4 separate regions of the Homo sapiens genome follow, and all the other regions are linked to region 1. The links come from fine-mapping of genetic effects on gene expression. A gene starts in region 1. Each other region holds a variant in brackets. All regions are shown on one strand. Distances are from middle to middle.

Region 1 (7,566 bases):
ATATGGTTTCTAAAAACTTGTTTTTGTTTTTTGAGACAGGGTCTCCCTCTTTGCCCCAGGCTGGAGTGCAGTGGCGAGATCATAGCTCACCACAGCCTCAAGCTCTGGGGTTTGCAATCCTTCCACCTCAGCTTCCTGAGTAGCTGGGGCTACAGGTGTGCACTACTATGCCCAACTAATTAATTTTGTTTTTTTTTTGTAGAGACAGGGATCTCTTTATGTTGCCCAGGTTGGTCTCAAACTCTTGGCCTCAAGCAATCCTCCAGCCTCAGCCTCCCAAAGTGCTGGGATTACAGATGTGAGCAACTGCACCAGGCCTTAATTTAATATATATTTTTTGAGACAGAGTCTCACTCTGTCGCCCAGGCTTGAGTGCAGTGGCAGGATCCCGGCTCACTGCAACCTTTACCTCCCAGGTTCAAGTAATTCTCCTGCCTCAGCCTCCCAAGTAGTTGGGACTACAGGCGTGCACCACCACACCTGGCTAATTTTTGTATTTTAATAGAGACAGGGGGCTGGGCTTGGTGGCTCACGCCTGTGATCCCAGCACTTTGGAAGGCCGAGGCGGGTGGATCACCTGAGGTCAGGAGTTCAAGACCAGCCTGGCCAACATGGCGAAACCCCGTCTCTACTAAAAATACAAAAATTAGCTGGGCGTGGTGGCGCGCACCTACAATCCCAGCTAATGAGGAGACTGAGGCAGGAGAATCGCTTGAACCCAGGAGGTGGAGGTTGCAGTGAGGCAAGATTGTGCCACTGCACTCCAGCCTGGGCAACAGCAAGACTCCATCTCAAAAATAAAAAAATAAAAAATAGAGACAGGATTTCACCATGTTGGCCAGGCTGGTCTTGAACTCCTGACCTCAAGTGATCTGCCCATCTCAGCCTCCCAAAGGGTTGGGATTACAGGCATGAGCCACTGTCCCTGGCCTTAATATGTTTTTGAGATTCATTCATGTTGTGGCACACAGCAGTACTTCATTGCTTTTTGTGGTTGAATAATATATTGTATTGTATAGAAATAGCACATTCTGCTTATCCATCATCAGCTGATGAACATTTGGGTTGTTGCAATATTTTGGCTATTGTGAGTAGTGCTGCTATGGACATTTGTGTACAAATGTTTATGTAGACATGTTTTCAGTTCTGTTGGGTAGATTCCTAGGAGTAGAATCGCTGGGTCATAGGGTAACTCTATGTTTAACTTTCTTTTTTTTTTGAGGAGTCTCGCACTGTCACTCAGGCTGGAGTGTAATGGCACGATCTTGGCTCACCGCAACCTCTGCCTCCCAGGTTCAAGCAATTCTCCTGCTTCAGCCTCCCGAGTGGCCGGGATTACAGGCATGTGCCACCATGCCCAGCTAATTTTTATTTTTATTTATTTATTTAGTTTGAGATGGAGGTTCACTCTTTTTGCCCAGGCTGGAGTGCAATGGCATGCTCTCAGCTCACTGCAACCTCCGCCTCCTGGGTTTAAGTGATTCTCCTGCCTCAGCCTCCCGAGTGGCTAGGACTACAGGCTCACGCCACCACGCCCAGCTAATGTTTGTATTTTTAGTAGGGACAGGGTTTCATCATGTTGGCCAGGCTGGTCTCAAACTCCTGACCTCGTGATCCACCCGCCGCGGCCTCCCTAAGTGCTAGGGTTACAGGGGTGAACCACCACGCATGGCTGTTGAGCATTTTTTCATGTGCTTATTGGCCAGTGTATATTTTCTCTGGAGAAACGTCTGTTCAAATTCTTTGCCCAGACCAGGAAAGGTGGCTCAGCCTGTAATCCCAACACTTTGAGAGGCTGAGGTGGGTGGATCGCTTGACCCCAGGAGTTCGAGAGCAGCCTGGGCAACATGCCAAAACCCCATCTCTACTAACAATACAAAAAATTAGCTGGGTGTGGTGTGTGCCTGTAGTCCCAGCTACTTGGGAGGCTGAAGTAGAAGGATCACCTGAGCCTGAAGAGATTGAGGCTGCAGTAAGCCATGATCGTGCCACTGCACTCCAGCCTGAGCAACACAGTGAGATCCCCCATCTCAAAAAAAAAAAAAAAAAAGTAAAATAAATTTCTCTTTGCTTGTGGCTCCTTTAGGTCCTGGCTGACTGTCATTTTCCTGGGCCTCTCTTGCTTCCTGAAGACTTTTCTCTTCCCTTTTCTACATCCCAGTCTAACCCCAGCTCCTCTTTCCTTTCTCATGTGGGGCAGTGACTCCTTTGACTTGTCTTCACTAGACACCTTCCCCCATTTTCAACAAGTTGGCCCAGGAAGTTTCCCTGAGCCCCTTCCGCAGAGTGAGGAAGCACGGCTGTCATTTTTCTTTTCTATCTTTAATTTAAAAATTGTTTTTATTTTTTGAGGGAAGAGTCTTGCTATGTGGGTCAGCCTGGAGTGCAGTGGCACAATCCTAGCTCACTGCAGCCTTGAAGTCCTGGGCTCAAGCAATCCTCCTGCCTCAGCCTTCCAAGTTGTTGGGACTACAGGCACACACTACCAGGCCTGGCTACTTTTTAATTTTTTGTAGAAACAGGGCCTCACTATGTTACCCAAGCTGGTCTCAAACTCCTGGCCTCAAGCAATCTTCTTTCCTCAGCCTCCTAAAGTGTTGGGGTTATAGGCATGAGCCACCACACCCAGCCTGTTGTTTTCTTTTCAAAATCATAATTATTTTCTTCCTTATTTACATTTTAGTGTGACGATTGTTCCAGGGCTGCAGTCTCCTCTTGTGGAAAATAAGGGAACCAGACTACTCCATCTCTAAGGCTCCTACCAGGTCTAACATACTATGGAAACTTATAAGTCCATCTGAATGACTAAATGCAGGATTTACATTTGGTAGAGCCTGATTAGAGAGGAAAAGAAAAGATGGGGAAAGTTTCCTTTTTTTCTTGCTTCACAGGTTTGCCCACAGCCCAGCTGCATCTGTGAACATGAATGCTACTTCTACAGAAACAGAGTGGAATCTCCGAAATACCTTTGAGACCCTTTCGTGTCAGGTGGGTGGGCCACAGCCTGATCATGGAATAAAAGTCAGCCTTAAGGATTCAGATTTCAATAACTTTCAGTGAACCCCACCTTGAGTCAGGCACTTTGCTAGGTGCTTTTAAACACACTATCCCATTTAATCACAATGGGAGGAAGGTTTTATTGCCTCAATTTTTTTTTTTTTAAGACAAAGAGTCTCACTCTGTCATCCAGGCTGGAGTGCAGAGTTTGATCTCGGCTCACTGCAACCTCCACCTCCCAGGTTCAAGTGATTCTCCTGCCTCAGCCTCCTGAGTAGCTGGGATTACAGGCACCCACTACCACGCCTGGCTAATTTTTGTATTTTTAGTAGTGACAGGGTTTCACCATGTGGGCCAGGCTGGTCTCAAACTCCTGACCTCAAGTGATCCGCCTGCCTTGGCCTCCCAGAGTGCTGGGATTACAGGCGTGAGCCAGCGTGTCCAGCCAATTGCCTCAATTTTAAGGATGAGGAAAATGGTGCTCACCGAGAGGCCAGGTAGCTAGCTACTTCAAAGTCACACAGCCACTGAGGAGCAGAGCCATGAGGACTCGACTGTCCCTTGGGAAGACGAGTTATTAAAAAAAAAACAAACACCCACCAAAGCAGCAAACTCCATGCCTACAGGGGCTGGGCAAGTAAAAATAAGGAGATGGGCAGGCATGAGAAAACAGGAGCAGTGGGAAGGACTTGCCTATTCTCTGACCTTGGCAGCTGCTGACCAGCAGCAGGTCATGCCATGCAGCAGTGTGGGTGTCATGTGGCTGATTTTCTAGTATCTCAACTGATGGGGGAGAGCCAGAGTTTGCATGAAATTATCCCAATTTTTAAAGAAGGAGCCAACAGTGAGCCAAACACGATACCACTACAGAACAAATCTGGTCTAGGGGACTGCTATTGAGGATGAATTCCTTTGGCTTAACACCCATCCTCCTGTTCATTCATCTTCTCAAAAGCAAACATGCTCTAAGTGAGGAGGGAGGTCACCTTCAGCCATAAGGCGCCATTCTACTGGCGAGAAGTGGTGGGGAATGTGGGACAGAGAAGACTTTGTAGCTGGGGAAGAAATTAAGTCATAGTCACCAAGGATTTGGCCCTGCCTTCACCGGTTTCCCTGGGCGGCAGGGAGGGCCCTACCATAGAATGTTACCGACAAGTGGGAGCAAATGGGGGCCCCGGCCCTGTTCGTTCAGCTGGGTGAAAACGAGGGTCTTGGGGGCACAGGTTTAGGTGGGATTGGTGGGGGATAGTAGCTTTCTTTTTCAATTGTTGAACACAGAAGAGAAACCCAAAGCAAGGCGCCAATCATTAAAACACACAAACACAGACACACGCGCAAGTCACCTTGCTCGCTGGGTACTTTAGTTACCTCAAACGGAAATGGGGTTTTCGGCCCCTCTTTTCCTGCCTACCTCATGGGACTGTTGCCAAAGAGGAAGGAACCGGAAGGAAAGGTCTTGGGACAGGACAGGGGCTAAGCAGCCGTGCATTCGTTATGATGTGAGGGGTGCCGGGGGCTGGAGACTGAGGTCGGGGAGAGCACGGGCCCTGGGTCCTTAGTGCCAGCGGGCGGCCAGAACCAGAGTGCGGGGGTCTAGGGATTCGGGGACCCAGACGCACCAGGCCCACATATCCCGCTCAGAAGGGTGCGGAAAGCCGCGCGCACACGGCAGGGACACGCCCCAGACACGCCCCGCCCCGCACTTCTGGGGCGCGACCCGGAAGCGGAAGGGAACCCGTTTCTTTTCCTTCCCCAGTGCGTCTTTCCTGCGTCGTTCCGGCGCGGCGGGAGCAGAGATCTGCGGCCGTTTGCAGCTTGCGGTAGGGAGGCGTGGTGGTCTGAAGCCTCCGAGCAGCCGCGGCCATGGCGGATGTAACCGCCCGTAGTCTGCAATACGAGTACAAGGCGGTGCGTTTGGTCTTGGGGAAGGATTCCAGGCTCAGGAGTCCAATGGGGAGGGGGAGGCTGAAAAAGGGAGTTTCAGTCTGAAGGCCTACAGGAGAGCCACGAAAACGAAGGGGAAATGGAATCGGGGTGAAGGTGGGGGTTATACGATGACGTGAATAACCTACTGGGGTCTGGGGAGCGCTAAGATCTCTCTAGGAGGAGTTTCTCGAGTACCTTCAACGCTAAGCCCTCCCCCTTCCACACGTCACTCCCAACCCACTCACTACTTTTCACAGGTGTGGGTTATGATGGGCGCTGTTAGGAACAAGAATTGTTTAGCTGATTCGACAGCGCATAAGACTTATTCAGCTGTACGCTTCTGCACAGCGTTATACTATGCAATTCTTAAGGAAAATATATTTTTATTACGATTAGTGATGATAAGCAACTAGTTACTACGATTTTTTCCATCAGCTGGGGTAACTATGATAGTAGGAATTGGCCCTGCTCATGTCAAAGCTTCAATAATGTTTTGATCTTTTCAGAACTCGAATCTTGTGCTCCAAGCTGACCGTTCTCTCATTGACCGGACCCGCCGGGATGAACCCACAGGAGAGGTGCTGTCCCTTGTTGGGAAGCTGGAGGGCACCCGTATGGGAGACAAGGCTCAACGGACCAAACCGCAGATGCAGGAGGAAAGAAGAGCCAAGTGAGTGCCAAGGGGATACTATTTTTTCCTTCAGATCCAAAGTCTCTTCCCTTTAACATTCGAGCAGCATTTTTGCTGGAATGCTTGGTGTAAGATCAGTGGCATTAAAACAATTCAGTGAAGGTAAAAACAGACCAGGAGAGTTTAAAGATTTTTTGGCCTTAACAAGTGCATCTCAAGTGGAAAATAACTTGTTGGTACCTTTTTCTTACATGTGTGTTTCTGGTCCATAGACAGATCTTAATTTTCTTCAGGGTATTTTCAAGACCCTTGCTATTCCTATGTCCCAGTAATTCGTTTTCCTTTTTTCCCATTACTAACTTCCTACCCCTACTTTTTCCATTTACTCTTGTCCACGTTCTACCTATTTTGTTGTAACAAACTAATTTAAGCATCCATAGTATGAAAGACAGGTTTCTTTCTTAGTTTGCATTTTTTTCCTTTATTTTTTTTTTTTAAGATTTCTTGGGGATATGTTTCAAAAACTTACCTTTACCTCATCATTATCTTTTGATCCTGAATATCTTGGTGTCTTGCTCCCTTTCCTATGATGAAGTTTCCAAAATTCCTAGGCTTAGTTTGATTAAAGTAGTTATGTTTGAAATGAGTTAATACATTATCTCCACTTTGTGCTATATCTTCTTTTCCAGTTTTGTTATACTTTGTTGATAGTCAACGGCAGTAGATTCTGTTAGAGCTTGGTTCTCTAGCTAGAAAGGGAAAATGCATTGGAGAGGTGAAAAACTAGTCAAAATCCTATTATATAATAGTCTCATACAATGTATGAAGGGTTGTACTTTTTTTTTTTTTTTTTTTGAGACGGAATCTCACTCTGTCACCCAGGCTGGAGTGCAGTGGCGTGATCTCTCTCACGGCAACCTCCACCTCCCGGGTTCAAGCGATTCTCCTGCCTCAGCCTCCTGAGTAGCTGGGATTACAGGCGCTCGCCACTGTGCCCGGCTAATTTTTGTATATTTAGTAGATACAGGGTTTCTCCATGTTGGCCAGGTTGGTCTTGAACTCCTGACCTCAGGTGATCCGCCTGCCTTGGCCTCCCAAAATGTTGGGATTACAGGCGTGAACCACTGCACCTGGCCAAAGGGTTGTATTTTTTAAATGAGAAACATCTCATTGTAATGTTTAGTGCATCTAGTGAGAAGATGATAGGGAATTTTTCTTTTTGTCACTGTGTCCCATAAAGAAATACTCCTGCAAGTGATTAAGGCCAAACGGAATCATTTGCTGAGGCTCAGATACCTGTTTTCAGATATTAACTTCTTGCCATGAAGCTGAGGAGAGGAGGGTGGGCTTGATCCAGTCTTCCCTTGGGGACGAAAGGTTCTGCCATTCAATATCACATTGCATGTCCATTAGGCGAAGAAAGCGTGATGAGGACCGGCATGACATCAACAAGATGAAGGGTTATACTCTGCTGTCGGAGGGCATTGATGAGATGGTGGGCATCATCTACAAGCCCAAAACTAAAGAGACTCGGGAGACCTATGAGGTGCTACTCAGCTTCATCCAGGCTGCTCTTGGGGACCAGGTGAGTGTGATATTGTGAAATATATATTAGGTCTTTATTTCATTTTCTGGCATACAGCTTCTAAGATCCTTGGAATCTTCGAAGTGCTAAGTATCTTTTTGTATGCTGATGAGTTGACTGATGGCTGGCAGCACTTAGGTAGTTCAGAATGGAGGCTGGTCATTTAATCAATCATGCCTACATAATGAAGCCTCCATAAAAACCCCAAAAGGACTAGGTTTAGAGAGTTTGTGGATAGCTGCACACATGGAGGTTTCTGGAGGGTGGTGCGCCTGAGAGGGCCTGGTAGCGCCACACCCATTCCCACATGCCTGCCCTGTGTACCTCTTCCATCTGTTGTCTTTTGGTAGGCATCTTTTGTAATATGCCTTATAGTAAAAATAAGTGTTTCCCTGATCTGCTCTAGAAAATTAGTTGAACCCCAAAA
Region 2 (7,566 bases), 60 kb after region 1:
CTGCTGAGAGAATGGCAAGAGCAAAAGCACACTGGTGGCCAGGAGGTGGTAAGAGCCGAGGTTAGAAAGGTGAGGGGTGCTCATTTAAGGCACTAACAGCAGAAGGAGCCCAGGAAGGATTTTCAGAAGGGAAGGGAGGGATGCAACCTTATTTTAATGACTGGTGACAGTAGGAAGGGTTCTGCCTGGCCTTAAGTGAGGGTGTTGAAAGTGGGAGACAGGACCTGCCAAAGGGGAAGAGGGCGGTCACAGTCAATCCCAGGGCCCAGTGTCTCAGCCAGGTGCTGGAGTTGGGAATGCGGGAGCCCCAGTCTCTGCCCACCTGTCACGTGGCAGCTGGAAGGTGGCATCAACTGCACAGGCGAAGAGGGGCCCGCACACGAGAAGCCATGGGATGTGAAGGGCCGCAAGGAGAGGACCCTGGGACACAGGAAGAGGTGGTGCATCTGGGGCAGGGCGGCTTTCCCAAGATGACTAGAGAATCTTCAGCTGGCATCTTGCCTGAAATATCCACGCTCTCAGCCACTACACTAATGGAACACAGATGCTATGGGGAGACAGAAGGGAACTGACAAACTTCATGCCCCTGTTTTCAAATAGCCTGCAATCTTACCTCTTCCTCTGCATTTTTTGGGGGGAGTGACATTTTAATGGGAGGCAGGAGGTTTGTGGAGAAGAGAAAATGTTTTTTTTGTGGGGGTGGGTAGAGACAGTCTCACCATGTTGCCCAGGCTGGTCTCAAACTACTGGCTTCAGGCAATCCTTCTGCCTCCCTTCCCAAAGGGTTGGGATTACAGGCTTGAGCCACTGCACCAAGCCTGAAAATGTCGTTTTGAATGAGCCCACCTGAAACGAAGACGCTTCATTAGGGTTACTGGTTTGAGAATTAAGATCAGTTCTGGCCGGGTGCGGTGGCTCACGCCTATTATCCCAGCACTTTGGGAGGCCGAGGTGGGTGGATCACAAGGTCAGGAGATCGAGACCATTCTGGCCAACATGGTGAAACCCCGTCTCTACTAAAAATACAAAAATTAACCAGGCATGGTGGCAGGTGCCTGTAGTCCCAGCTACTCGGGAGGCTGAGGCAGGAGAATCACTTGAACCCGGGAGGCAGAGGTTGCAGTGAGCCGAGATCATGCCACTGGACTCCAGCCTGACAGAGTGAGACTCCATCTCAAACACACACACACACACACACACACACCACACACACACACACAGGTTCCTCACCATAAGCTTTGGGGAAAATTCTTGGCTTTTTTGCTGGGGGAGAGAGCAGTGCCCAGGGAAGATTGGCTGATCTCAGAGCTGGAGGGTTTATGCGGGACTGGCCAGCCCCTTCAGCTGAGTGGGACAGCAACACAGTGGGTGGTAAGGGGCTTCATAAGATGTACAAGATGAGGGAGAGGCCCCTCCAGCCAACCCTGTGTCTAAAGAGTCAGGTAACGAAGAACTTTCCAGAGACAGCTGTGAGTCCGTCTGGCTTAAGGGGTTGTACAGGTGTCTGAGAATGGGGCCTGAAGGTGCAGGGCCTGCAGGCTGCCCTGTTTGGAAGGTTCCTGTCCTTCTGTCTTGGTAGAAAATGGCAGCTAGCCTTGTAAAGGGCCTCCTTGTGTAGCGAGATAGACCATGTAGCCCCAGATGCCCCCATGGCTTCACTTCCCTCTTGGGGGTCTCTCAGTATATGTCTAGTGCCACCACTATTGGTGGAGAGTTTCCTTCTGGAATAACCTTGGGGTGGTGGATGGGTTTTATTTTAATAAAAGAAGAATGTCTCATTCATTTTTTCTTATTTATTTTTTGAGACGGAGTCTCACTTTGTTGCTCAGGCTGGAGTGCAGTGGCAAGATCTCGGCTCACTGCAACCTCCACCTCCCCGATTCAAACAATTCTCCAACCTCAGCCTCCCAAGTAGTTAGGATTACAGGCATGCACCACCATGCCTAGCTAATTTTTATATTTTTAGTAGAGATGGGGTTTTGCCATGTTGGCCAGGCTGGTCTCAAACTCCTGACCTCAGGTGATCCGCCCGTCTTGGCCTCCCAAAGTGCTGGGGTTACAGGGGTGAGCCACTGCGCCCTGCCCCGTTATTGATTCTTTCCATCTGTTTGCTTCCTCATATTCTAACGGGGTATGGGAAATTTGCTTGCATGTACACACATGCAATTTCTTTCCTTTTTTTCTCTTTTTCTTTCTCTTTCTCTTTCTTTCCTTTCTTTCCCTCCCTTCCTTCCTTTTCTTTTCTTTTTTCTTTCTTTTCTTTGACAGGATCTTGCTCTGTCTGGAGGCTGGAGTGTAGTGCTGCAATCATGGCTCACTGCAGCCTCAACCTCCCAGGCTCAAGTGATCCTCCCACCTTAGCCACCTGAGTGGCTGGGACTGCAGGTGTGAGCCACTACCTCTGGCTAATTTATTTTTTGCAGAGACAGAGCCTTGCCATGTTGCCCAGGCTGGTACACACCCAATTTCTATTATGTGTACAGGCCTGTGTCTTTCTT[CTTG/G]TTTACCTTATCAGTCCATTAGGCCAGGAGTCGTGTTGTTGTTTTTATTTTTTTTTAAGGTGGAGTCTCACTCTGTTGCGAGTGGACAAGAGTGCGCTCTGGAGTGCTGGAGTGCAGTGGTGCGATCTTGGCTCACTGCAATCTCCACCTCTGGGTTCAAGCAATTCCCCTGCCTCAGCCTCCTGAGTAGCTGGAATTACAGGCGCACACCACCATGCCTGGCTAATTTTTGTATTTTTTAGTAGAGAATGGGGTTTCACCATGTTTGCCAAGCTGGTCTTGAACTCCTGACCTCAGGTGATCCGCCTGCCTTGGCCTCCCAAAAAGCTGGGATTACAGGCATGAGCCACCACACCCGGCTGGGTCACGCTTTTTAATGTGACATTCATTCAGCAAATACACTGAACACAAGTGCCTTGTGGAGGATGCAGAAATTCTAACACATATGATCCTTGCCCTCTAAGGCCTTCCAATCCAGCCACCAGGAAAGAGGAAACCTGATGACACCGAAACGTGATAGCCAAGGAACACTTCCTAAAGAAGAGACTTGATCTGGGCCTTGGAGAAGGGGCAGGCCTTCATGAGAGCATGGTGTAGGCAGTGGTGTGAAAGCAGGAAAGGAAGGGCGTGGCTTTGGGGAACACTGAGTTGATGTGAGCAGCTCCTTCCCACTGGAGGTGCAGGGCAAGCAATTAGCTCATGGACCTAGCCCAGGAGGGCCTGGAACATCAAGGTTGTCAGAATGCTCACAGCTGCAAGACCCAGAACTGAAAATTTCTTAACTAAATGGAATTTATTGTTTTCCACAATTGAAAAGTTCAGCGTAGTCGGGGGGACTGGGCTGGGTCCAGGGACTCAAACAATGACACAAAGACACAGTTTCTCTCCACCTCTTTGCTTTGTGTGTCTGCTCAGGCCATCTCTCCCCAAAGGTGGTGAAGATGGCCACCAGCAGACTGGGGCTCACCCTAGACTCCTTTTTAAGGTAACAGGATGACTCTCTTTTGCCCAACTTAGATCATGCCCCTTACCCTGAACCCTGGCAAAGAACGTGGAGCTTCCTCCTGTGGTCCAGGTAGAGGATGGTTACATGTGGGGTCTGGGATTCAGAGGTGGCACCGCTGGCAGTGGTTGGGACATGTGAGCACAAGGGTGAGGCCTACACCACTCTGAGGCCTTGGCTGCCCCTTCTCTCTCCCCCAGCCCTCGCCTTTCCATGATGGTAAGACATGAGGCCACTCACCAGCTCTGCCTTCTTGAAGAAAATCAGTGTCCTATCTTTGAACAGAGCTGGGCCTTGAAGTCAGGCTCACCCACTCTCAAACCGTGGGGGAAACAGAGCCTTGGTTACACCAGCTCTGTCTCAGGGATTGTTTTTTCTGCTTCTCTCCTACCCTTGCCCGTTTCTTCCTGCTCCTTTCCAGCACCCTCCCAGCTCCTCACTTTCCTGACTTTTGTTTTCTTTTCCAAGCAGCTTGAGCAGTGCTTGATGCTCCTGGGTCACAGCGTGCACACATCCTGGCTGTTCTGGGTAACCGCACACCCAACCCCAGTCCCATCCCCATATCTCTATCCTGAAATCAACCCAAAGGGTGGGGAGGGAGCAGGCAACAGCAGACAACAGAAGGCGGGGGTACTGAGAGCATGTGCTGCTATTCAGGTACCCTTTGCAGTAATTCCCCAGAAGCACTAACATTTCTGCTGATCTTGGAATGATGCTGTATTACTCAGGGTTCTCCAGAGAAGCAGAACAATAAGATGTGGAGATATATGTATATATACAGAAAGACATTATAAGGAATTGGCTCATACAAATGTAGAGGCTGACAAGTCCCAAGTTCTGCAGGGTGAGTCAGCAAGCCGAGACCCAGGAGAGCCGAGGTTGTAGTTCTAGTCTGAAGGCCAGCAGGCTGAAGATCCAGGAAGAGCTGATGTTTCAGTTCAAGTCCAAAAACAGGAAGAAAGCTGATGTCACCACTTGAAAGTTGGTCATGCAGGAGGGGCGCCCTCCAACTCAGCCTTTTGTTCTATTTGGGCCCTCAGCTGATGGATGAGGATCCCCTGCGTTAGGGAGGCAGCCTGCTTTACTTGCTCCACCAACATAAATGCCAGTCCTACCCCACGCCCTCACAGATGGACCCAGAGTAATGTTCAAGCTGATATCTGGGCACCCCATGGTCCAGTCCAACTGACACATAAAATTAATCATCACAGATGCCTTCTTCAGCACATGCTCGATATCTAACAAATATCTCTACGGTGAGATTTTCCCCCCAACCTTGGGCCCACTTAAGAAAGATGTTGAACTGGGCGCGAGGGCTCACGCCTGTAATTCCAGCACTTTGGGAAGCTGAGGTGGGTGGATCACTTGAGGTCAGGAGTTTGAGACCAGCCTGGCCAACAAGGTGAAACCCCGTCTCCATTAAAAATACAAAAATTAGCCGGGCGTGGTGGTGGGCGCCTGTAATCCCAGCTACTTGAGAGGCTGAGGCAGGAGAATTACTTGAACCTGGGAGGCAGAGGTTGCAGTGAGCCAAGATCATGCCACTGCACTCCAGTCTAGGTGACGGAGCAAGCCTCCGTCTCCAAAAAAAAAAAAAAAAAAAAAAAAAAAAGAAAGATATTGAGAAATTGGAGAGGGTCCAGGCAAGCATTCTGAGTGGATGAAAGGTTAAAAGTTCTAGAGAAAAGGATGTAATAGCAATCTTAAATGTGTGAGGAGATAATTATTTATTTGCTCAAATGTGTGACTTAAAAAGGCACGCCTTCTCTATAGGACTGTTTCCTTATATGTAAATGAGGGGCTGAACTGGGTGACTTTACAGTCCTGCCAGCCATAAAGATCCATGACTTCCTGAGAGGGGGCTGCCACGCTCTGTATCCACTGTGGGAGATGAAGAAGGACTGAGGAACTGAGCAGTTTAGCTGTAGCCTGTAGTACCAGCTACACAGGAGGCTGAGGCAGGAGGACCACTGGAACCCAAGAGTCTTGAGGCTGCAGTGCACTATGATCATACCTATGAATAGCCACTGCACTCCAGCCTGGGCAGCACCACCAGACCGCATCTTTCTTTCCTTTCTTTTTTTTCTTCTTTTGATGGAGTTTCGCTCGTCACCCAGGCTGGAGTGCAATGGGGTGATCTTTGCTCACTGCAACCTCCATCTCCCAGGTTCAAGTGATTCTCCTGCCTCAGCCTCCCAAGTAGCTGGGATTACAGGCATGTGCCACCATGCCCACCTAATTTTTGTATTATTAGTAGAGACAGGATTTCTCCATGTTGGCCAGGCTGGTCTCAAACTCCCAACCTCAGGTGATCTGCCCACTTCGGCCTCCCAAAGTGCTGGGATTACAGGTGTGAGCCACTGCTCCTGGCCTCTATTTATTTACTTACGTGAGTTTTTTTTTTTCCAATAGGTTTTTGGGGAACAGGTGGTGTTTGGTTATAGGAATAGGTCGTTTAGTGGTGATTTCTGAGATTTTGGTGCACCTACCACCTATGCAGTGCACACTGTACCCAATGTGTAGTCTTTTATCCTTCACCCCCTTCCCACCCTTTACCCTGAGTCCCTAAAGTCCATTGTACTCATCTCTATTAAAAAAAAAAGAAAAAAAGGCCAGGTGCAGTGGGCAGATCACTTGAGGTCAGGAGTTCACGATCAGCCTGGCCAAAATGCTGAAACCCCATCTCTACTTAAAAAAAAAAAATTAGCCAGGCATGGTGGTGTCTCGGCTGTAGTCTCAGCTACTCAGCAGGCTGAGGCAGGAGGATCACTGGAACCCAGGAGGCAGAAGTGGCAGTGAGCCAAAATTGAGCCACTGCCCTCCAGGCTGGGTGACAGAGCGAGACTCCATCTCAAAACAAAAACAAAAACAAAACAAAACGAACAACAACAGCAGCAAAAAAAGGCCAGGTTCAGTGGCTCACACCTGTAATCCCAGCACTTTCGGAGGCCGAGGTGGGCAGATCACTTGAGGTCAGGAGTTCGAGACCAGCCTAGCCGACATGGTGAAACTCCGGCTCTACTAAAAATACAAAAATTAGCTGGGTGTGGTGGCTTGCTCCTGTAGTACCAGCTACTCGGGAAGTTGAGGCAGGAGAATCACTTGAACCTGGGAGGCAGAGGTTGCAGTGAGCCAAGATTGCACCACTGCACTCCAGCCTGGGGGACCAGCCAGACCTTGTCTAAAAAAAAAAAAAAGGAAAGAAATAAATTCTTTTCCCATCTTTCTTTCTTTATTCTTATTTTTTGAGACAGCGTCTTCATCTGTTGCCCAAGGTAGAGTGCAGTGGCACAATCGCAGCTCATTGCAGCCTCTATCTCCTTAGGTTTAAGCAATCCTCACACTTCAGCCTCCAGGTTGCTGGGACTACAGGTGTGCAACACCACACCTGACTGATTTTTTTTTTTTCTTTTCTGTATTTTGTAGAGATGTGGTTTTGCCATGTTGCCCAGGCTGCTCTCAAACTCCTGGGCTCAAGCAATCTACACACCTCAACTTCCCAAAGTGCTGGGATTACCACCACACTTGGCCCTTTTCTCATTTCTAAAGTGGGTTGTCTTTTATTGTTGAGTTTTAAGAGCTTTTGTTTGTTTTTGCCATCCTGTGCCACTCTGTTGCACAGGATGGAGTGCCGTGGAGCCATCTGGGCTCACTGAAACCTCCAACTCCTGGGTTCAAGTGGTTCTTCTGCCTCAGTCTTGAGTGAGCCACTACGCCCGCCTAATTTTTGTATTTTTAGAGAGATAGAGTTTCACCGTGTTGGCCAGGCTGGTCTCAAACTCCTGACCTCAGGTGATCCGCCTGCCTCGGCCTCCCAAAGAGCTGGGATTATAGGCATGAGCCACCATGCCCGGCTGAGTTTTAAGAGTTTTTATATATTCTAGATACCAGCCCCTTATCAAGTGGCACAGAGCAACTATGGCAGAGGGCCTACAGAGATTAAGTTTGTGCCCCATAGATATACACTAAAACATTTTGGAGAAATGGAAAAATATGGATTGATACTTTCCATTGCAACAGAATTCTTTTAAAAGACAAAAGAACCTTAGATATCCTCACCAA
Region 3 (7,566 bases), 22 kb after region 1:
GTGGGAATGCTGCTTCTTTGCTTAGTCGGCTGGCCGGTTGATGCGAGCGATATTTGAAATTGTCCTGAACCGAGGTTGGGCACAGCTTACAGACAAGACCCTGAACCTCTGCAAGATGATCGACAAACGCATGTAAGGACCCAGTGAGCTGGATGCTGGTCACCATGAGTGGGGGTCCCCAACCCAAGGGTCTGATGGGAAAGCCTCAGGGTGCATCTGATCTCCAGACCTGACATCGGAAGTATGACCTGAACCTTGGTGCACATTGAGAAGAGGGAAGGCCCTCTGTGGTGGAGGCCAGGGCTGGCACAGTGTCAGTGTCTGCCTTTAATGACTGTGTTTTGTGTAGTCACTGCTAAACTATTGGAAGCCATGAAGTGGGTGGTTTGTCACATCCCTGCAGAAGGGACCAACAGCTTTGCCTCCTTCCTGGATAGGTGGCAGTCCATGTGTCCTCTGCGCCAGTTCCGGAAACTCCCTGAGGAAGTAGTGAAGAAGATTGAGAAGAAGAATTTCCCCTTTGAGCGTCTGTACGACCTGAATCATAATGAGATTGGTGTGTGGGATGCTCTCGCCCTTGTCCTCACTGCCTGGGTGTCTCTCCCAGTTTGCCTATGTAGTCTTCCTGTTCCTAGGCCTGTGCATTAGTATCCTGTGTTCACTCCCCAAGTCCCACTGAAGTACAGGCTGGCCCTTGGTCTGGGGACTTGGAATCCTGGGCTCCACTGACCATAAAGGGAAGACCCTACCCCTTTCCCACAGTGGCCCTCAGGCCCAGTTTGCAGTATAGTAGGCAGGCTGGGCTGCAGCCTCAGTACTCTCATTTCCTTGTAGGGGAGCTTATCCGCATGCCAAAGATGGGGAAGACCATCCACAAATATGTCCATCTGTTTCCCAAGTTGGAGTTGTCAGTGCACCTGCAGCCTATCACACGCTCCACCCTGAAGGTGGAGCTGACCATCACGCCAGACTTCCAGTGGGATGAAAAGGTGAGGCTTTGCTGGGCAGAGGTGCTGGATTGGAGGTGCTCAGTCTACGTTGCTGGGCCGAGGAGATGGATTGGAGGCACTCAGTCTACGTTGACTCACATTCCTTTTACCCTTGCTCCTGTTGGCAGGTGCATGGTTCATCCGAGGCTTTTTGGATTCTGGTGGAGGATGTGGACAGCGAGGTGATTCTGCACCATGAGTATTTTCTCCTCAAGGCCAAGTACGCCCAGGACGAGCACCTCATTACATTCTTCGTGCCTGTCTTTGAACCGCTGCCCCCTCAGTACTTCATCCGAGTGGTGTCTGACCGCTGGCTCTGTGAGTGTCTCCTCTCCAGAGTCCCCAGGAACAGTCCCTCCAAGGACAGTAGAAGAATGTCTTGCACTTTGTCCCGGGCTTGCCCTTGCTGGGGACAGAGTGATACATATGCTGCCTAGGTTTCCAGTGTTCATGGAGGGGATCTAGAGGCCAGTGAGGGAAAGAGAGCAGTGCTTATATCCTTCCTGTTTCTTTTCTGGCAGCTTGTGAGACCCAGCTGCCTGTCTCCTTCCGGCACCTGATCTTGCCGGAGAAGTACCCCCCTCCAACCGAACTTTTGGACCTGCAGCCCTTGCCCGTGTCTGCTCTGAGAAACAGTGCCTTTGAGAGTCTTTACCAAGATAAATTTCCTTTCTTCAATCCCATCCAGACCCAGGGTAAGTGTTTCCATCCCTCCTCTGGAGGCTTTTGAAGTCACCGGGAGACAGATGTGCTCTGTGGCAGGCAGGGGAGTGGGGGTGCTCAGGCACTTGGGAGGTCTGGGAGCTCCTCAGTGTGACCGCTGGGACCCACCAGGACTTTTTCCTTTGTCAGAAGCCTTTGGTTGCTTTGCTGCTCTGCATGTGTCACTGTGGAGGGGCAATAGAGCAAGGCCTTACATGGCATGGTCATTTCTCGGGCCCAGGAGGCTTAGAGGCCTGCCCCTGGCGCTCAAGTATTGAACCAGAACCATGGGGTGGCACTGAAGCCTCCTCACCACATCATGATAAATAACGGGGACATTCACAGAGCAGGCACTGTTTCCTCAGTCCATGGCTGAGTACATCACCGGTGTTTTCTCTCTTATTCCTCCCATCAAGCCTAAAAGGAATCTCTATTGGAGATACTGCCATTAGTGTTCCTTTTATAGGTGAGGAACTGAGGCATAGAGGGTTCCCCAGTTGAACCAACTGATAAATAGTAGAACTTGGATTTTAATTCAGTCTTGATGCCAGGGATAAGGCTCTTACTTTCTACCTTAGGCTATTTCTAGGAAACGCAGGAGAGTGTTGAAGGGGCAGAGAAAGGGATCCAGTTCCTTTCTGTCCCGCATCCTAGTCCCTGAGAAGCAAAGAAGAATGTGTGGCTTCTTTTGCTTTGCTTTTGTTGTCATCCCACACATCTCCAGGGGACCTGGGCTCTTGATCTTGGCCTCTTCCCCTTTAACTGTTAAGTGGGAGCAGGTAAGGGGGTACAGTAGGGCTGGCCTGGAGTTAGAGGCTTGGATGCCTTAGCTCCTCTGTCTGCACTCCAGAACTGCCTGACTTCATTTCGTATGTTGTCCTTTGTTTTGACAATTGATCCATGTCCCAGTCCGTCTCTTCTTCCTTCTTGATACTTACACTGCTTCTTTCTGTTGGTTTCCAGTGTTTAACACTGTATACAACAGTGACGACAACGTGTTTGTGGGGGCCCCCACGGGCAGCGGGAAGACTATTTGTGCAGAGTTTGCCATCCTGCGAATGCTGCTGCAGAGCTCGGAGGGGCGCTGTGTGTACATCACCCCCATGGAGGCCCTGGCAGAGCAGGTATGACGTGGCGCTGTGTCATGTGAATTTCCCAAGAAGCATTTCATCTGTGATTCCGTATGAAGGCTTTCTAAGCCCTGAAATTTGCAGGGTCATTTCCTCAGTTTGTGTATTAAAGAAAAGCTGCCCCAGCCAAGCGTGGTGGCTCACGCCTGTAATCCCAGCACTTTGGGAGGCCGAGGCGGGCAGATCTCCGGAGATCAGGAGTTCGAGACCAGCCTGGCCAACATGGTGAAACCCTGTCTCTACTAAAAATACAGAAATTAGCTGGGCGTGGTGGTGTGCGCCTGTAATCCCAGCTACTTGGAAGGCTGAGGCAGGAGAATCGCTTGAACCCGGGAGGCGGAGGTTGCAGTGAGCCAAGTTCGCACCACTGCACTCCAGCCTGGGCAACAAGAGCGAGACTTCATCTCAAAAGAAAAAAAAAAAAGAAAAAGCTGCCCCATCGCATCGCATAGAGGCTGCTATGGGATTAGAACGTAGCTTGAGATCTGCAGGTCAACAGGTCTGTTTGGCATCTCAGGTTTTCCTCACATAAGTGAAAGATGCCTGGTATGGCCTA[G/A]TGTTGTTCTGCCTCCCTCCTCTGCCCGCCAGGTATACATGGACTGGTACGAGAAGTTCCAGGACAGGCTCAACAAGAAGGTGGTACTCCTGACAGGCGAGACCAGCACAGACCTGAAGCTGCTGGGCAAAGGGAACATTATCATCAGCACCCCTGAGAAGTGGGACATACTTTCCCGGCGATGGAAGCAGCGCAAGAACGTGCAGAACATCAACCTCTTCGTGGTGGATGAGGTCCACCTTATCGGGGGCGAGAATGGGGTATGGCGTGACCTTGCAGCACAGATGAGGGACTGGGACTGACCAAGTGGCCTTGGCATTGGACCTAATGTTTGGGTCTGAGGACGGAGGCTCGGGGCTTCTCCCCAGAGGATTCTACCTGCTGCCCTATTCCAAAGGGACAATGTTAACTTTTTTGGTAGTACTTTAGGAAAACAGTATTGTTTAGTGGAGGTTGGCTGCCGTGGAGGAGGTAGAACCAAACACATGAGAGCTCCTAGTTAGAAGGAAGAATGAGGTCATTTTGAGGCTGTTGGGCTGTTCACAAAGGGGACCTCCAGGCAGAGGATGGGAGCCTTGGCCTGCAGTGACCCTCCCTCCCTCCCTCTTTCCAGCCTGTCTTAGAAGTGATCTGCTCCCGAATGCGCTACATCTCCTCCCAGATTGAGCGGCCCATTCGCATTGTGGCACTCAGCTCTTCGCTCTCCAATGCCAAGGATGTGGCCCACTGGCTGGGCTGCAGTGCCACCTCCACCTTCAACTTCCATCCCAATGTGCGTCCCGTCCCCTTGGAGCTGCACATCCAGGTAGGACCCACTCTCCTCATCCGTCTGTGGGGTGTCACATAGATCCTGAGTGACCCAGGTCTGATAACCTTGGTGTCTTTTCTTCTCCCCGGTCGCCAGGGCTTCAACATCAGCCATACACAAACCCGCCTGCTCTCCATGGCCAAGCCTGTGTACCATGCTATCACCAAGCACTCGCCCAAGAAGCCTGTCATTGTCTTTGTGCCGTCTCGCAAGCAGACCCGCCTCACTGCCATTGACATCCTCACCACCTGTGCAGCAGACATCCAACGGCAGAGGTAGGTGGGGCCTGGCGTCTGGGGGTTGGGGTTAGGTTAAGTGAGGCTGGCCTACTCCAAGGGTGTCCTCTTTATGAGGGTGGGGTTAGCCCATGTTGCTTGGGGCCAGGTTCTGCACAGCTGGCAAAGTGTCTGCCAGGAATTGAACTACTCTGAGCTGAGCCAGTGCCTGTACCGCACAGGTTCTTGCACTGCACCGAGAAGGATCTGATTCCGTACCTGGAGAAGCTAAGTGACAGCACGCTCAAGGAAACGCTGCTAAATGGGGTGGGCTACCTGCATGAGGGGCTCAGCCCCATGGAGCGACGCCTGGTGGAGCAGCTCTTCAGCTCAGGTAAGTCAGGCCACGGAAGGGGAGCATAGCAAGGGTATCACCAAGTGGTGGTGTTAAACTTGAGGGGTGCGGGTGGCAGTGTTTTCTCTACAGCATACCAGAGATTTTCAAAATACTGTTTAGGACTCTTGGCTGTTAACTCATTTGATCCTCCCAAGAACCTCGTGAGGCAGGTGAGACAAACACTATCCCTACTTGCCAGGTGAGAAAACAGGCAGACACATCAGGTTGTGCTATTTCAGAACCTGGTTTTCTAGAGTCCAGGACCTTTGGCCACCAGACCGCTGATTCTCCGTGGATACCAGACTCCCCAAGTGTATTAGTCCGTTCTTGTATTGCTATAAAGAAATACCTGATACTGGGTCATTTATAAAGAAAGGAGGTTTAATTGACTCAGTTCTGCAGGCTGTACATGAAACATGGTGTTATCTGCTTCTGGGAAGGCCTCAGGGAAGGCAAAGGGGAAGCAGGCATCTTATATGGCAGGAGTCAGGACCGAGAGAGTGAGTGGGGAGGTGCTACACACTTTTGAACAACCAGATCTCGTGAGAACTCATTCACTAGACAGTACCAAGGGTGGGTGGTGCTAAACCATTCATGAGAACTCTGCCTCCATTAGCCAGTCATCTCCCACCAGGCCCTTCCTCCAACACTGGAGACTACAGGTCGACGAGATTTGGTGGAGACACAGATCCAAACCGTCTCACCAAGATAGTTAGACTTTAGAGATTAGCACAGAGGAGAGCTCTGATTCTCCCTTGAGCTCACTCTTGCTGGCCACTGTCTCTTGTTGCCCTGTGGCATTTTGTGCAAAGATTTACGTTTTAATACTGTTTATTGGAGCCTCATTGGAGATTCTTCTGCCAGAATCACTTCCTGTCACTCTTTGGCCCTTGAATCTGCCTGTTTGGGGCATGCTTAGAGTGATCTCTGTTTTGCTGGCATGGCTGAGCCAGCCCGTGGCTGCATGAGTGTTAGCACTTTCTGGTCAGAGGAGCAGTCCATCAGCTGTAGTTTTGCCTTGGTGTTCCTGGGCTTTGGGTTCTGTTCTATGATGACTTGTTTTCTCCTGGATAGTCCCAGAGCAAGGCACCAGCAGCGTGGAGCTACCTCATAGCAATGTGTTAGCTCTCATTCATGTTAGACCTTGTTCCTAGCCAGCCTTGCTGTGAGTTCTGAAACATAGCACAGGGTAAGCCACGGCCTGCCCATGAGGCAGTGAGCCTACTTCACCCGGAGACCCCTGCCCTCAGCCTTCCTCTCCCCTCTACTGCTCAGGGGCTATCCAGGTGGTGGTGGCTTCTCGGAGTCTCTGCTGGGGCATGAACGTGGCTGCCCACCTGGTAATCATCATGGATACCCAGTACTACAATGGCAAGATCCACGCGTGAGTACAACTGGTGCTCTGTGTTAGCACAGACCTCCTTCCTAAAATGAATGTGAATCTGCAGATACACAGAAAGTAAGCTAGGATGAAGAAAAGGTGTTAGGGAAGTTAACAGCTGAGATGCCACCAGAGCCAAGTGTTTGAGAGTTTTGTGTCTCAATACCTAGGCTCACATTTGCTTTTTAGTCATTGTGCTTCCTTATTCAGCAGCTGGGAGAGGTAGGAAATTAGAGCCAGGAGGAATGTTTGACGTTACGTCATTAATCTCAGACATCTTGTAGATTAGGAAAAGTGACTTGGTCGAGGTCATACACCTATATAGTGACAAGTAAGAAGCTAGAGGAGTGCCGAGCGCAGTGGCTCATGCCTGTAATCCCAGCACTTTGGGAGGCTGAGGCGGGCGGATCACTTGAGGTCAGGAGTTCAAGACCAGTGTGGCTAACATAGTGAAACCCCCGTCTCTACTAAAAATAACAAAAATTAGCTGAGTGTGGTGGCAGGCGCCTGTAATCCCAGCTACTTGGGAAGCTGAGGCAGGAGAATCAGTTAAACCTGGGAGGCAGAGGCTACAGTGAGCTGAGATCCCACCATTGCACTCTAGCCTGGGCAACAGAGTGAGACTCCAACTCAAAAAAAAAAAAAAAAAAAAAGCCTGGGTGTGGTGGCTCACACCTGTAATCCCAGCACTTTGGGAGGGCAAGGTGGGCAGATCACCTGATGTCAGGAGTTCAAGACCAGCCTGGCCAACATGACAAAACCCCGTCTCTACAAAAATTAGCCAGGTTTGATGGCAGGTGCCTGTTATTCAAGCCACTCACCTGTAATTCAAGCCACTTGGGAGGCTGAGGTTGGAGAATCACTTGAACCCAGGAGGCAGAGGTTGCAGTGAGCCAAGATCGCGCCATTGCACTCCAGTCTGGGCAACAGAGTGGTACCCCGTCTCAAAAAAAAAAAAAAAAAAAAAAGGGCCAGGTGTGGTGGCTCATGCCTGTAATCCCAGCACTTTGGGAGGCCAAGGCGGGTGGATCACAAGGTCAGGAGTTCGAGACCAGTCTGGCCAATGTGGTGAAACCCTGTTTCTACTAAATATACAAAAATTAGCCTGGTGTGGTGGCACGCGCCTGTAATCCCAGCTACCTGGGAGGCTGAGGCAGGAGAATCGCTGGAACCCAGGAGGCGGAGGTTGCAGTGAGCCGAGATAGCACCACTGCACTCCAGCCTGAGCAACAGAGCGAGACTCCATCTCAAAAAAAAAGAAGTTAGAAGAGTCAGTCATTCTCATAAAAAAGCCTGCATAATTTGTTGTTGTTTTTTTTTTAAGACAATCTTGTTCTGTCGTTTAGGCTGGAATGCGGTGGTATGATCTCAGCCCACTACAGCCTCTG
Region 4 (7,566 bases), 310 kb before region 1:
TTTGCAGACGCTGAAGGGGAAGGTAAGGCTGTGATTGGGGTCTGCCCTGTCCTAGGGATAGCCATCCTCCCCTGTGGGTTCAGGATGTGGGGTTAGGCAAAGTAATTATCTGGTCGGTCTGGAGTGCATGGCCAAAACTAATGGGTTTGGTACTAAAATTGGGAGACAGGGTATCATTTCACATTTGTGTCTGGTGTAAACGTTTTCAGCCCTGCTGGCTCCAGGATGAGGTATGGGGCCTGAAAACCAGAGTATACATTTAGCCTTCCTAGCCTTGCAGCTTGTGGTTTGAGTCATGGCTGAATTGAATTATCATGAAGGAGACGAAGGGTTTACCAGGGAAGAGTTTGTTGAGAAAGGTGACAGAAGCAGACCCTTGGTGCTCGGAGCACTGGGAGATTGCAGAGCAGGAACGTGCCGTGATGCCTTCAATTCTGCTCCCCAGGGCATGAGCCTTTAGTAGCAACACTTAGACTTTTATAATTCAGTACAAACATATCATTATAGTTCCCTGCTTTCTTACTTAGTATTGCACAAAGTTAAACTGTTTTTCTTGGTGATTCCAGTGATTGCATCAGGCTATCGTCAATGTGGTAGAATGCGGATGCTGGAGGCAGATTGCCTGGCTGATCTCAGCTTTGTTACTGATTAGCTGTGTAAGCTTGGACTGGTGTCTCATCTCTAAAATGTGGCTGATAATAATAGCTATCTAGGATTTTTATGAAAATTAAATTAGTTAATTCAGGTAGGGGGCTTAACACAAAATTGGGCACATAGTAAGCAGTGAGCCCACAGTAATTATTATTACTAATATTAACAGTTATTTAAGTAGTACCCTCATAGGTTCTTGAAATATTTGGGGTGTTTTGCTCCAATACAAAATGGCCTCACGGCCGGGCATAGTAGCTCATGCCTATTATCCTAGCACTTCGGGAGGCTGAGGCAGGAGGATCGCTTTAGCTCAGGAGTTTGAGACCAGCCTGAGCAACATAGCAAGACCTTGTCTCTACTAAAAATAAAATAATTAGCCAGGCATGGTGGCACACGTCTGTAGTCCCAGCTAGTTAGGAGGCTGGTGGGAGGAGGCTGTAGTGAGTTCAGTCCCACCACTGCACTCCAGCCTGGGTGACAGAGGGAGTCCCTGTCTCTAAGAAAGAGAGAGAGAGAGAAGAGAAAGAACCAAATCAATCCAAGTTGTCTGAGGCCTTTTTTTTTTTTCTTTGGAGACAGGATCTTCCTCTCTCACTCAGGCTGGAGTGCAGTGGCACTATCATTGCTTGCTATAACTTCGAACTCCTGGGCTCAAGCAATCCGTCTGCCTCAGCCTCCCAAGTACTGGGACTAGAGGTGTGTGCTACCACCACACCCAGCAAAGAAATTTTTTTTTTTTTTTTTTTTGAGACAAAGTCTCACTCTGTCGCCCAGGCTGGAATGCAGTGGCACGATCTCGGCTCACTGCAACTTCTGCCTCCTGGGTTGAAGCAATTCTGCCTCAGCCTCCTGAGTAGCTGAGACTACAGGCGTGTGCCACCCCGCCCAGCTAATTTTTTTTGTATTTTTAGTAGAGATAGGGTTTCACCATGTCTCGATCTCCTGACCTCGTGATCCGCCCGCCTCGGCCTCCCAAAGTGCTGGGATTACAGGCGTGAGCTGCCGTGCCCTGCCACACCCAGCTAAATTTTTAATTTTTTTGTAGAGACGGTCTTGCTATAGGCTCGTCTTGAATTCCTGGCCTCAAGCAGTCCTCCCATCTTGTCCTCCCAAATTGCTGGGATTACAGGCATAAGCATGATTCAGTTTTTGACACTTTTTTTTTTTTTTTTAATAGTTTTACTTTCTGCTTCACAGGAAGCTGGCTCATCTTGCTGCTGTAAGTTGCCTGGCCAACACGTTCCCTCAGCCACATCCCCAAAACTTGCAGACTCATTGTTTCTTATGTGTTTTTAAGTTAAAGGGTGCCAAGTTTGTTAGAAGACTGGTTTAGTGCTGAAATAAAACTCAGGACTAGATACATTAATGATATTCATGGTAGGAAATTTGACACTAGTTTTTTTGTTTAACTAATACTTATTTTGGGCCCTACGTGTGTCAGGTACTGGGGTGAGCAAAACAAAACTGGTCCCTTCTCTGGTGGAGTGTATTTTCTAGTGAAGAAAGAGACAAATGAAAAGGGAGTCCCAGACTTTCCCCTGTACTGCTCCCCTGTAGTAGAAACCCTGGACCCGGGAGGTGAGTGGTGGGCAGGTAGAGTGTGGGGCCCAGACTGGATCCTGGCAGACAGAGAGTGGTGGCCCAGAAGTATCGTAGGCATCTTCACATATGTTCTCCTCAGCATTCTACCTACGGTAAAAGTGTAACATTGGTGAATACACTGTAGGAGATGAGTGTTGGTAGTGGCCAGGGTCTCAGTTCTCTGGTGACCCTGCTTCACTCACTGTGGCTAGCATAATTTCCCTTTAAGGAGGAATTTGTACTGCTGCCCTATTTAAGTTACTGACTGGACATCTCCTGGGTGCATGTCGGATATTATGAGCATGGCAGACCACTGGGGGGACTCCATAGCATGCATAGTTGGGTGTTTTCCTCCCATGCTGCTGGGCCACGGTGTGGGTTGACTGGAATAGTGGAAGGCTCGCTGGTACACCAGTCAGCAAGGGCCTCAGACTCAAGGCAACATCCTCTCTGGGCTGTGCTCTCCGCAGTGGTTCCTCTGCCATCGGACTCTTATTTTCCCATGACTATATTTAGATTCACAACAAATACTTTGGTTGTTTCCCAAAGGATATAAATGATTATAGGATTGTTTTACTTTTAAAGTGCCTGCTGGATGTGAAAGCGCAGGTGGATGGGATCATGCTCTTCACCCAGCTACTTTCACTATTAGATCCATTATGATAAAGAGGGCAGAGAAGGTATAGACCTTAGCCTTTTAATTGGCTGTTGAGAGTGAATGCAATGCTGGAAGGGCCAGGGAAGCTTGGTCTTCCCAGCTCCAAGTGGAAAAGTCAGTATTGATTTTTTATCCCTTGTTGACAGGAAGCAAGTGTCAAGGCTTTTTGGTTTCAAAGCTATATACTACTGTTAGATAAAGCTTAACCCAGGGTCACATCCTTTGCCTCAAAGTGTTGAGTGGCTCACAGTTCTAGAGTGAGTTACAAAGAACATGAAGATCCTTTGCAGTTTGGTCTTATCCTTTGCGGTTTGGTCCTATCCTTCCTACTGGCTTTTTACATCCTCCTCCTTCCTTACTTGCATCCTTGACTTTTGTCCATCTGTGCCTGGAATAAGCTCTACACATTCTTGCCTCTTGCTGGTGTCTCTGATGGGAAGGCTTTTCTCTCATCTTCTGTTGGAATCCTGCCTGTTCCAAAGAGCCTGTCTCATTTCACATGCTGTATCTTTAGATGAAAATTGCCTCTTAACTTCTTCTCCATTGGGTGGTTTGAATCATAGCAGTTTGGGCTTCTGTTTCTTTCATGGCAGTTATCGGTCTTTCCCTATTCCTGTCCCCCACCATTATTTGTGTGTTTGTCTTCCTTACCTCTTGTAGATTAAATTCCTCTGCAGTACTAGCCTGGTACCTTGTAAAAGCAGTTGCACGAATATTTCTTTCCTGAGTTAAACTGAGAAAGTCTAATGGTTATAATTCTCTAATTTCTCATACAGAAATCCTTTTAGTGTCCCTGTTTTTAAATTAAGAGCAACTTATCTTCTGCTATTTTTGGAGTTTTACAACTTGCATCAAACCGTAGTACTTTTTATTCTCCAATTTTTCAAAACCTTTTTCTTTCTCTGAAAACTGCCTCTAATATTTAAACATTTTTCCTTTCCCCTAGGTCATTTTGACCTTTTGTGGGTAGCATGGAATTCGCAGATATTTCTTCTCAGTGTAAGCATCAACATGTCTGAAACCTATATTTGCACATCTGTAATGTCACATTTCTGGTAGATAGTAAAAAACAGACATGAGATAAAGTACACTGTATATAGTATAGCAGGATATATATTTTTGTACATAATAACAGATTTATTTAGTACACCACAGCTTGAAGGCAGTACTCTAGAAGAAAATGGAGATTTAAAAATATTATAAAATCAACTGATACTCATTGAGGAAATTTAGGGAACATAGAAATCTGTAAAGGAAAAAGTCACCCATAAACTCCATAGAGATCATTATTAACATTTTGTCTTTTTTTTTTTTTTTTTTTTTTT[G/TG]AGACAGTCTCCCTCTGTTTCCCAGGCTGGAGTGCGGTGGCACACTCTTGGCTCACTGCAACCTCTGCCTCCTGGGTTCAAGCGATTCTCGTGTCTCAGCTTCCTGAGTAGCTGGGACTACAGGTGTGCAGCATATTTTCTTTAAAATATGATTCTATTATATTCATTGTTTAGAAATCTGTTTTATCCCACTTAATGTATCTTTTTTTATTTTTTTAATTTTATTATTATACTTTAAGTTTTAGGGTACATGTGCACAACGTGCAGGTTTGTTACATATGTATACGTGTGCCATGTTGGTGTGCTGCACCCATTAACTCGTCATTTAGCATTAGGGGAGTAGAGATAATTTTTTTCTTTTTTTCTTTCTTTCTTTTTTTTTTTTTTCTTTTTTTTGAGAAGAGTCTCACTCTGTTGCCTAGGCTGGAGTGCAGTGTCATGACCTTGGCTCACCACAACCTCCACCTCCCGGGTTCAGGTGATTCTCGGACCTCAGCTTCCCAAGTAGCTGGGATTACTGGTGTGCGCCACCACACCTGGCTAATTTTTGTATTTTTAGTGGAGACAGGGTTTCACCATGTTGGCCAGGCTTATCTCGAACTCCTGACCTCAAGTGATCTGCCCACCTTGGCTTCTCAAAGTGCTGGGATTACAGGCATGAGTCGCTGAGCCCAGCTTTGAGTAGAGATAATCTTTATATTTTCTATTTTACCTGTAACATTTTAGCAAAATTATTTCTGTGTGTTATTATATATCCTTGTAAATATTTGAAAGCTGGGTGCAGTGGCTGATGCCTTTAATCCCAGCACTTGAGGAGGCTGAGGCGGGTGGATCATTTGAGGTCAGGAGTTCAAGACCATCCTGACCAATATGGTGAAACTCCATCTCTACTAGAAATACAAAAAATTAGCTGGGTATGGTGGTGCACGCCTGTAATCTCAGCTACTTGGGAGGCTGAGAAACAAGAAATCGCTTGAACCCGGGAGGCAGAGGTGGCAGTGAGCCAAGATCAGGCCACTGCACTCTAGCCTGGGCGACAGAGCGAGACTTTGTCTCAATAAATAAATAAATTCTTGTAAATATTCGAAAATAATCTTTAATATCCAATTAGGTAGATAGTTGACTAAACTACTCCCTTACATATGCACATATATATTAAATTGTTTTTACTTTATTATTATTCATAGTTAATTTGTCTCTGTGCATAATTGTCCCCATCCTTTTGTGTGTGTTTTTGTTTCTGATACGTTTTCTTTGGAAAGGTTCTCAGAAGTAGAAACATTTGGAAAAGGGATGGGAATACATTTAAGTCCCTTGCTGCATATCCAGACTGCTTTCCAAAGGATTGTACACATTCACTTTTCATGGTGGGAGCATACTTTTCACCCGCTTATTTATATATATTCTTGATCCTTAGGAGGTTTTCAGAGGCTTAGTTGAAGTCTGTCTATGGCTTATAGTGGGGCTCTGTTCTTCTGCTTGATTGCTGGTGGTGGAAGGTCTCCTGCTTTACACTGGAGTCATCTTTGCTCTTTCTTCTTTGTAGATCCCAACCTTGATTGACCGGATGCTTGTGTCATCCAACACAAAGACTGGGGCTGCAGGAGCTGAGGCCTTGTCTCTCCTACTGAAGAGGCCCTGGGACCCTGCTGTGGGTGTGCTTTCTCATAACAAACCAGTAAGTTGGATGGCTCAGGACTTAACAATGGTACATAAAAATTTTAGACTCAAGCCTTAGAACCTTGGCAGGAGGATAAATGGCTTCTTTAACTATTTATTATTATTATTATTTTTTGAGACAGAATCTTGCTCTGTTACCCAGGCTAGAGTGCAGTGGCACGATCTCAGCTTACTGCAACCTCCACCTCCTGGGTTCAGGCAATTCTCCTGCCTCAGACTCCTGAGGAGCTGAGATTACAGGCATGCACCACCATGCCCAGCTAATTTTCAGTAGTGACAGGATTTCACCATGTTGGCCAGGCTGGTCTCAAACTCCTAATCTCAGGTGATCCACTTGCCTTGGCCTCCCAAAGTGCTGGGATTGCAGGTGTGAGCCAGCATGACTGGCCAGCTTCTTTAACTATTATTAATAATTTATTTTACATAGTGCTTAACATAATTTCACAAGCAAAGGAGCATTGGTTGGGATGAGAAAGGTATTGGGATACTTGGAATTTCATGAAAGGACACTTCTCACTCACTGGTTTTTGGGTGGGATTCTTCCTCTTTAGAGCAAACTCCCTGGCTCTCCGCTGATTCTCATCGCCTCCTCTGGTCCCTCCAGCTCTGTGTTTCCCACTTCACGCCGCCACCGCTTCTGGCAATCTCAGCTGTCCTGCTTGGGCAAGGTATGTGTGGGGGCAAGAGGAACTCCTTCCTGGCAGGGAATATAGTCTTGGAGGATTGAGGAGAAGAATATGTGGGAGGAGGTCAAAATGGGTAACTTGAATGTGGAGCCTCCTCTAACCCTTCTTTCATGTGGAGCCTCCTCTAATCCTTCTTTCATGTGGAATTCCAAGGTTTTGGGTTTAGGTTAGGTTAAACAGAATTGAAAGATTTGAAACTTACCTCTGCTGGTGTGGGGGCTACTTCTTTCCTTCAGGTCATCCCTGTAGCCACCCATCTGCTGAACAATGGCAGTGGGGTAGGAGTTCTACAGTGTCTCGAGCATATGATTGGGGCAGTGAGAAGCAAAGTGCTGGAGGTGAGAATGCCCGTATTTCAGTACATTGTGGCATACCCAGCATTCTGGGGTTGTTCTGCACCTATCTTTGGCCTCCTGTCTTACTGTCTTCTTTCTCTTCCCATGAAGATTCACAGCCATTTCCCACACAAACCCATTATCTTGATTGGCTGGAACACAGGAGCTTTGGTGGCCTGTCATGTAAGTAATTTCTATCTTATTTGGAGGTTGTCCTGGGATGGAATACCACTAATCATAGCTACCATTGAGTCCTTTACTGTGTGTCAGGCTCTGCGCTAGATACTTTACCTATATAATTACATTTTAAACTGTAGAAGACAAATTTTATTAAAACAATTTTTAATTTATTTTGGAAAACTTTAAGCAGAAACAAAAGCAGGTGTAGTATAATAAACCCCCGGATCCTCACCCAGCTTTACCAGTGATCAACTCTTGGCTGGGCTTGTTTCATCTCACCCTGCTCATTTTCTTTCTCCCCTAGATTGTTTTGAAGAAAATCCCAAATATAATAGCATTTTCACATACACACACACACACACACACACACACACACACACATATGGGTATATATCTGTGGAAAAAAAAAAAAGATCCCTTTTTTTCTCTAAACATAAGTACCATACTGTTCTCCCACCTAAAAAACAACA

Direction of the effects. Positions count from the first base shown, and alleles are read on the strand shown. Sizes are in standard deviations (SD) of each study's normalised expression.
With allele CTTG in place of G in region 2, the expression in thyroid of the gene that starts at base 4,752 in region 1 is higher (large effect, 1.1 SD a copy in GTEx).
In carriers of allele A in region 3, the expression in whole blood of the gene that starts at base 4,752 in region 1 tends to be lower than with G alone (moderate effect, 0.54 SD a copy in GTEx).
In carriers of allele TG in region 4, the expression in monocytes of the gene that starts at base 4,752 in region 1 tends to be higher than with G alone (moderate effect, 0.61 SD a copy in BLUEPRINT).

Evidence for each region. PIP is the estimated chance that this variant, and not a neighbour inherited with it, causes the effect.
Region 2: its variant is fine-mapped to the expression of SNRNP200 in thyroid (GTEx, PIP above 0.99).
Region 3: its variant is fine-mapped to the expression of SNRNP200 in whole blood (TOPMed, PIP above 0.99). The same link has a PIP of 0.9 or more in blood mononuclear cells, lung, sun-exposed skin, tibial artery and tibial nerve.
Region 4: its variant is fine-mapped to the expression of SNRNP200 in monocytes (BLUEPRINT, PIP 0.95).

Annotation. Positions count from the first base shown.
Region 1 is chr2:96,302,732-96,310,297 of GRCh38, reverse strand. SNRNP200 (small nuclear ribonucleoprotein U5 subunit 200) reads left to right here and starts at 4,752. Exons shown (of 45, transcript NM_014014.5): 1 at 4,752-4,905; 2 at 5,430-5,593; 3 at 6,968-7,139. The coding sequence starts at 4,861. RefSeq lists enhancers at 3,043-3,671, 4,264-4,343, 4,593-4,887.
Region 2 is chr2:96,242,730-96,250,295 of GRCh38, reverse strand. It overlaps TMEM127 (transmembrane protein 127), which reads left to right. Exons shown (of 4, transcript NM_017849.4): 4 at 1-1,782. Among named protein-coding and RNA genes, the nearest start is that of TMEM127, 19 kb to the left of the region's middle. The variant CTTG/G (reference allele first, on the strand shown) is at 2,499.
Region 3 is chr2:96,280,429-96,287,994 of GRCh38, reverse strand. It overlaps SNRNP200 (small nuclear ribonucleoprotein U5 subunit 200), which reads left to right. Exons shown (of 45, transcript NM_014014.5): 25 at 26-132; 26 at 438-556; 27 at 835-989; 28 at 1,118-1,307; 29 at 1,511-1,684; 30 at 2,655-2,815; 31 at 3,410-3,637; 32 at 3,991-4,182; 33 at 4,282-4,460; 34 at 4,643-4,794; 35 at 6,073-6,181. Among named protein-coding and RNA genes, the nearest start is that of CIAO1, 18 kb to the right of the region's middle. The variant G/A (reference allele first, on the strand shown) is at 3,378.
Region 4 is chr2:96,611,815-96,619,380 of GRCh38, reverse strand. KANSL3 (KAT8 regulatory NSL complex subunit 3) reads left to right here. Exons shown (of 21, transcript NM_001115016.3): 5 at 1-22; 6 at 5,762-5,893; 7 at 6,447-6,563; 8 at 6,818-6,919; 9 at 7,028-7,099. Among named protein-coding and RNA genes, the nearest start is that of KANSL3, 23 kb to the left of the region's middle. The variant G/TG (reference allele first, on the strand shown) is at 4,216.